Linked DNA regions of Homo sapiens: region 2 is linked to region 1. A link means that fine-mapping ties the variant in region 1 to the plasma level of a protein whose gene starts in the linked region. Region 1 holds a variant in brackets. A gene starts in the other region. All regions are shown on their forward strands.

Region 1 (2,905 bases):
TATATTTCGATGAGTTTTGTCAAATTTATACGCCCATATAACCATCAAAATAAAAAATTGACCAAAGTATCCAAAAGATCATTTGGAATTAGAACTAGTAAAAATTAACAGAAAATACTCGCTATAGTGCAACACGTGACAAAGAATTACTACTTCAATGTGTAATACACATAAAGTGTTTAAAAGTCAGGAGGAGAAAGATACTCCAACTGAAAAATGGGCAGAAGAATTAACAATCAACTCACCTACAGAAATGCAAAAGGCTACTACACAGAGGAAAAAGTGTTAATTCCCATGGGTAATCAAAGACATGCAAATTAAGACAAGATACCATTTTTTGGTCCACGCTTTTGATTTAAAACTTCAAATGTGTATACATAGAGAAAATTTTAAGATATGCAGAAAATCTAAACCATCTAGAAGTTGAAGTTTTAAGTTATTTTTATTTTGCTTCTCCTTTGGATTTTTGTTTACTGGATGTTTTCTAATATGTGTATCCTTACAACATTCTAATAATTCTAATAATGTTGATTTTCTCTTCTCACCTCATAAAGTACCTAGTGCAGTGCATTCTAGAAATTCACCCCTAAAAAAAAAAGCTATTTCCCCTATAGAAGGAGAAACACACACATGCACGCGCACACACACCCGCATGTGTTGCTAATGGTCCGCATGGTGAGATCATCATTGGAGCCGCCCTGCGGTCCCCCGGAGAGAGCCTGGGCCGAGCAGAGGATGCGGGTCACAACGACCCTGCAGGAGCTCACGCCCCAAGACACCGCGAGCGCAGTGCGACACTAGCGACGCCGGAGCCAAGGGCCAGAAAGAGGGCGAGACACACCCAGGTGGATCTAATTAACCCTCCCTCTTGGAAAAAGAATGGGGGACGATGTCCAGGGCCCTGGATCTAGTGTCTGTCGCTGACCTTGGGCAGTCCCTGCCACGCTTGAGCCTCAGTTTCCCACCCGTAGGCCGAGCTGACCGTCTCCATCGCTGCGCTCCTTCCCTTCTGCTGGTTTTTCCTGGTCCTGGGAGGGACGCCTTCCTCTGCCCAGTCGCCCTCCCCCAGCCCTTGGCTGCGAGGTCGCCCGCAGAAACCCAACACTGCTGCCGCGCTCTCGGCGCGCCCGGCGAACCTAAGGTGTGGACGCGCCGCGAGGGTCCCCTGCTTGCGGGCGGCCATTAGGCGCCAGGCCCCTTGGCGCTTCGGCCCTGCTAGGCTCGGCGAGGGTCTTACCCAGACTGGCACGCGCCCCGCTCGCGTCCTTCTATTGACCTGTCAGCGCAGCTGGCGCAGGCAAGGGCCAGGGAGGCGCCCCCGAGACACTCAACCATCCCCGCACTGATGCGGGCCCCTGCTGCCCTGGGGACCCCTGCGGGGTCCTCGCAATCCTCCGGCAGGAAGCGGTCGGAGCTGCGGGCAGGGCCGCTAGGCAACCCGCCTGCCCGAGGCGCAC[T/C]GCCCGGGGCACAGGCCCTCTGCGATGACTCTCCCCAACCCCCAGCTGCCCTGCTTGTGCCAGCTGTGGCCACCCCTAATCCTTGTCCCCTCGCTCTAGTGTCCAGGGCTCCGACCACCGCGCCAGAAGGGCTGGGCAGATCGTGCGCAACAGAAACCTACCCGGTTGGGGCGACCAGCTCGGTCCCCTGCGCGCGCCGAGGGCCGCCTCTGGTATTGCCCAGGCTGGCTAGCTCATCCCGGTGGAGGCGCCATCTCCGGGGCCCGGAAGGAGCGGGCGCAGCGCGGTTTGGGTGTGCGCCGGAGCCTCACCTCCTCCCGCCTCGCAGCTCAGGCGCAGGGCTCCCCTTGCTCAGGCGGGCCATGTGACCCGCGAGCTGCGGAGAGACCGCGGCCCCCAAAGCGGCTTGGGGAAAAAGGACGGCAAAAGGCGCCAACTGATGGGCAGCCAGGGAAAAGCAGGAGTCGCCCCCAAGTCACGCAAACAGGAAGCCTGTTTCTTTTGTGAGGGGACTAGAAGCCAGCATTATATTTCATCAGGTGTGTACATAGAGACTTATTCACACCAATGGAACGATATCTCTCAATGCGTGTAAACGCTTCATGAGAAAGCTGTTACTTTGGGTCTTGAATGTTTTTCAGTCTTCCCCAAACCCTCAATTTAAACACAAACGGCCACGAGAGACATAACGCCTGAGGTATGAGAAAGTATGCACATTGATTGAGAACAATCCCGGCAAAGCAAATAGGAAAAAGATACGGAATGATCCGAGGGAGGAAAAATGTGGGGGTCAAAAGAAAAGTAACAGCCTCCTACATTCCACCTTGGACTTTCCCTTCTGAATGGGTTTTCAGCACACAATTGTACGGCCTTACTCAGTGCTTCTAATCCTAGGTTTGCCTGTCTAGGCCACAGGTTAGCAACTACAGTTTGCTGCCTGTTCTTGTACAGCCCACAAGCTAAGAATGTTTTTTGCAATATTTCATGGTTAAAAATGGAAGAATATTTCAGGGCTACGAAAATTATATGAATTCAAAATTTGATGATCGTAAACAAAGTTTTACTGCAACATAGTCATCATTTACATATTGTCTATGGCTGCTACCATGAAAGAACAGCAGAGTTGGATAGTTGTGACAGAGACCTTATGACCCACAAAACCTAAAATATTTACTGCCTGATTTGCCAACACCTGCTCTAAAAGGTCTGTTCAGTGGTCACAAGATAAAGCATTAAAGCCAGTAAATGCTCATATGATTTCTTCTTGTGTAAGTAAAATTGATACTAGATATTAACTTCCTTTAGAACCTTACAAACACCCACCTGAGCCCCCATTCATCATCTACTCTTTCAGCCAGCATTTACTGAAGAATGGTTCTGACATACTGCCATCACTATAGATGACAATGAAGTAAGAATGAGGTGTGGATCCTTCACTCAAGGAATTT
Region 2 (2,905 bases), not on the chromosome of region 1:
AAACAAGGTTGGGTATCACACTGGGAGGCCGAGGCGGGCGGATCACGAGGTCAGGAGATCGAGACCATCCTGGCTAACACGGTGAAACCCCGTCTCTACTAAAAAAGAAATACAAAAAATTAGCCGGGCGTGGTGGCGGGCGCCTGTAGTCCCAGCTACTCGGGAGGCTGAGGCAGGAGAATGGCGTGAAGCCAGGAGGTGGAGGTTGCAGCGAGCTGAGATCGCGCCACTGCACTCCAGCCTGGGCGACAGAGCAAGACTCTGTCTCAAAAAAAAAAAAAAAAAAGTCATTGCCCCAAATAGAAACCCATTCCCATTAGCACCCACTCCCCACTTTCCTTCACAGCCTCAACAACCATGAATCCACCTTCTGTGTCTATGGAGTCACTTATTCTGGACATTTCATATAAGTGGAATCACACGACATGTGGTCTTTTGAGTCTAGCTTCTTTCTTTCTTTTCTGAGACAGGCTCCCACTCTGCGGCCCAGGCTGAAGTGCAATGGCGTGATCGCAGCTCACTGTAACCTCAGTCTCCCAGGCTCAGGCGCTCCTCCTGCCTCAGCCTCACAGCAGAGACCACAGGTGCGCACCACCACACCCGACTATCTGGCTTCTGCCACTTAGCGAAATGTTTCTGAGGTTCTTCATGTTATAGCACGTGTCAGCACGTCACTCTTCTTCATGGCTGAGTAATACTCCACTGCGTGAAGAGACACATTTATCTGTCCCCGTGTTGGGCATCTGCACTCTTCCCACATTTTGGCTATACTAAATTGTCCTGCTACGAACACCTGTGTAGTTTCTGTGTAAAGGTACAGTACCTATATGTTGGGGTGATCAGACCCAACCCCAGGTCGTGGGGGTGACAAAGTCCGGCGGAGTCAAAGGATTCAGAAAAACACAGAGAGAGAAAGGTGGCACACCAGGGGGCCATCGCTATTGTGGAGGCTGCAAAAGCCCGAGCTCTGGGAGCCCACGGTATTTATTGGTAATGCAACAAAGAAACAGATGGTGAGAATATGGAGGTCAAAAGACCACGTTGCATTAAGCACATGATTACAGCTGTGCCGGTTTAGCATTTATATGGAGCATGTTCTGCTACTTGAGATAATGGGAATAGGGGCCTAGGAGGGCTAGAAGGAAGGAGCCAGCAAGTCTAGACACATTCCAAAGGACATCATGCAAGCCCTGCCTCAGTTTCCCTCCCAACACCTATATGTCTTGTTGGTATACATGTTGTATTTTCACAACGAAAATGCATGAGAAAAAGGACACAGATGGCTTATGTGTACTGATGTGTAGCATTCTCTAAGATCTGACATCACAGAGCTGGACAGCACAGCTGTGCACGCACCCCCCTGGCTGGGAGGTGGCACATCCACACATGAGGGAAAAACACTGCCAGGACATCTCAGGGCACTCTCAGGAAATGAGGAAGCTGCTGGAGAAGTTTCTAGCCTTGGGGGAGGTCAGGACGCAGAGCCATCTCCTGGAGCAAAGTTCCCTCCTCCTCTCTCCCTCCTCCTCTCTCCCTCCTGCAGCCCTTCCTTCCGACCCCTGGCCCTTTCTCTCCAACCTTCCCCTCCCCTCCTCCATTTCCCTCCTCTTTCTACTTTCAGAGAACACAGGGTTCCTGCAGGAAATGGGGCAGTTTCACCTTCCTGAGGAGGGGCCTGGGAGGGGCAGCAGGTGGCCGGGTAGGGCCAGCCCAGCTGTGAGCCTGGCGTGGGAGCTGCCTAGGCCGGGCCCTGCCAGGGAGCAAGTCTGCATCGCAGAGGCCAGGGTGAGTGGGCTGGGGAGTCGGTGCGCCAGGGTACTGGGGTGCCCACCTGGGGTGGTGCAGGCCCGGGGACCCCAGGGCACCACTGTGGGTGGAAGCTGGGACCAGGCGTGCGGGGCAGGGGACGCGGCGGCTTCCTGGGATTCTAGGAGGCTGAGGCCAGGTGTGTGCGGCAGGGGACGGGGCGGCTTCCTGGGATTCTAGGAGGCTGGGACCAGGTGTGTGGGGCAGGGGACGAGGCAGCTTCCTGGGATTCTAGGAGGCTGGCACCAGGTGTGTGGGGCAGGGGACGCGGCTGCTTCCTGGGATTCTAGGAAACTGGGGCCAGGTGTGTGGGGCAGGGGACGCGGCTGCTTCCTGGGATTCTAGGAAACTGGGGCCAGGTGTGTGGGGCAGGGGACGCGGCGGCTTCCTGGGACTCAAGGAGGTGGGAGAGCTGCTCTCAGACCCGCCGCTGTCCTCCCACTGGCCCTCCCCGTGGTCCCTAGGATGAGGTCTGGACCCGCCAGGCCCTCCAGAGGCCCCACAACCCCGCTTGTCCACTGTGCCGGCTGTTCCTTCCTTGTGGCGCCCAGTGCGGTCCTAGGCACCCTTGGGACTCAGCTCACGTACCCCTTCCTCCAGGAAGAGTTCTCAGAGGCTGTGTGAGGAGCGCCGAGTCCCCGGACTTACTCTCTGTTCTGGAATTCTCTGCGCAGTCATCTGCCTTCCCGCCCAGCTAAGAGCAGGGCCTGTTGTCCGGCCCCACAATTTCCTTCCAGGTGGAAAGGATTTGCTGAATGAAAATCAAAGCTGTGGCCGGGCGCGGTGGCTCACGCCTGTAATCCCCACACTGTGGGAGGCCGAGGTGGGCAGATCATGAGGTCAGGAGATCGAGACCATCCTGGCTAACACGGTGAAACCCCGTCTCTAATAAAAAATACAAAAAATTAGCCGGGCGTGGTGGCGGGCGCCTGTAGTCCCAGCTACTCGGGAGGCTGAAGCAGGAGAATGGCGTGAACCCGGGAGGCGGAGGTTGCGGTGAGCTGAGATCGTGCCACTGCACTCCAGCCTGAGTGACAGAGCGAGACTCCGTATCCAAAAAAATAAAAGAAAAATCTTCTCCCCGGGTAGGGTGCGGGGA

Alleles and levels. Positions count from the first base shown, and alleles are read on the strand shown. Strength reflects both the effect of a copy and how common the allele is.
In carriers of allele C in region 1, the plasma level of the protein whose gene starts at base 1,708 in region 2 tends to be lower than with T alone (weak association).

What was found. PIP is the chance, under the fine-mapping model, that this variant and not a neighbour inherited with it causes the effect. The UK Biobank Pharma Proteomics Project read protein levels with antibody pairs (Olink). The fine-mapping took linkage between variants from a reference panel, not from the people measured, so its PIPs are less certain.
Region 2: DPEP1 starts here. The variant in region 1 is fine-mapped to the plasma level of the DPEP1 protein (UK Biobank, PIP 0.91).

Annotation. Positions count from the first base shown.
Region 1 is chr9:101,485,331-101,488,235 of GRCh38, forward strand. It overlaps PGAP4 (post-GPI attachment to proteins GalNAc transferase 4), which reads right to left and starts at 1,843. Exons shown (of 2, transcript NM_032342.3): 1 at 1,619-1,843. The variant T/C (reference allele first, on the strand shown) is at 1,458.
Region 2 is chr16:89,611,935-89,614,839 of GRCh38, forward strand. It overlaps DPEP1 (dipeptidase 1), which reads left to right and starts at 1,708. Exons shown (of 11, transcript NM_001389466.1): 1 at 1,708-1,785. RefSeq lists a silencer at 1,308-1,466 and an enhancer at 2,872-2,905.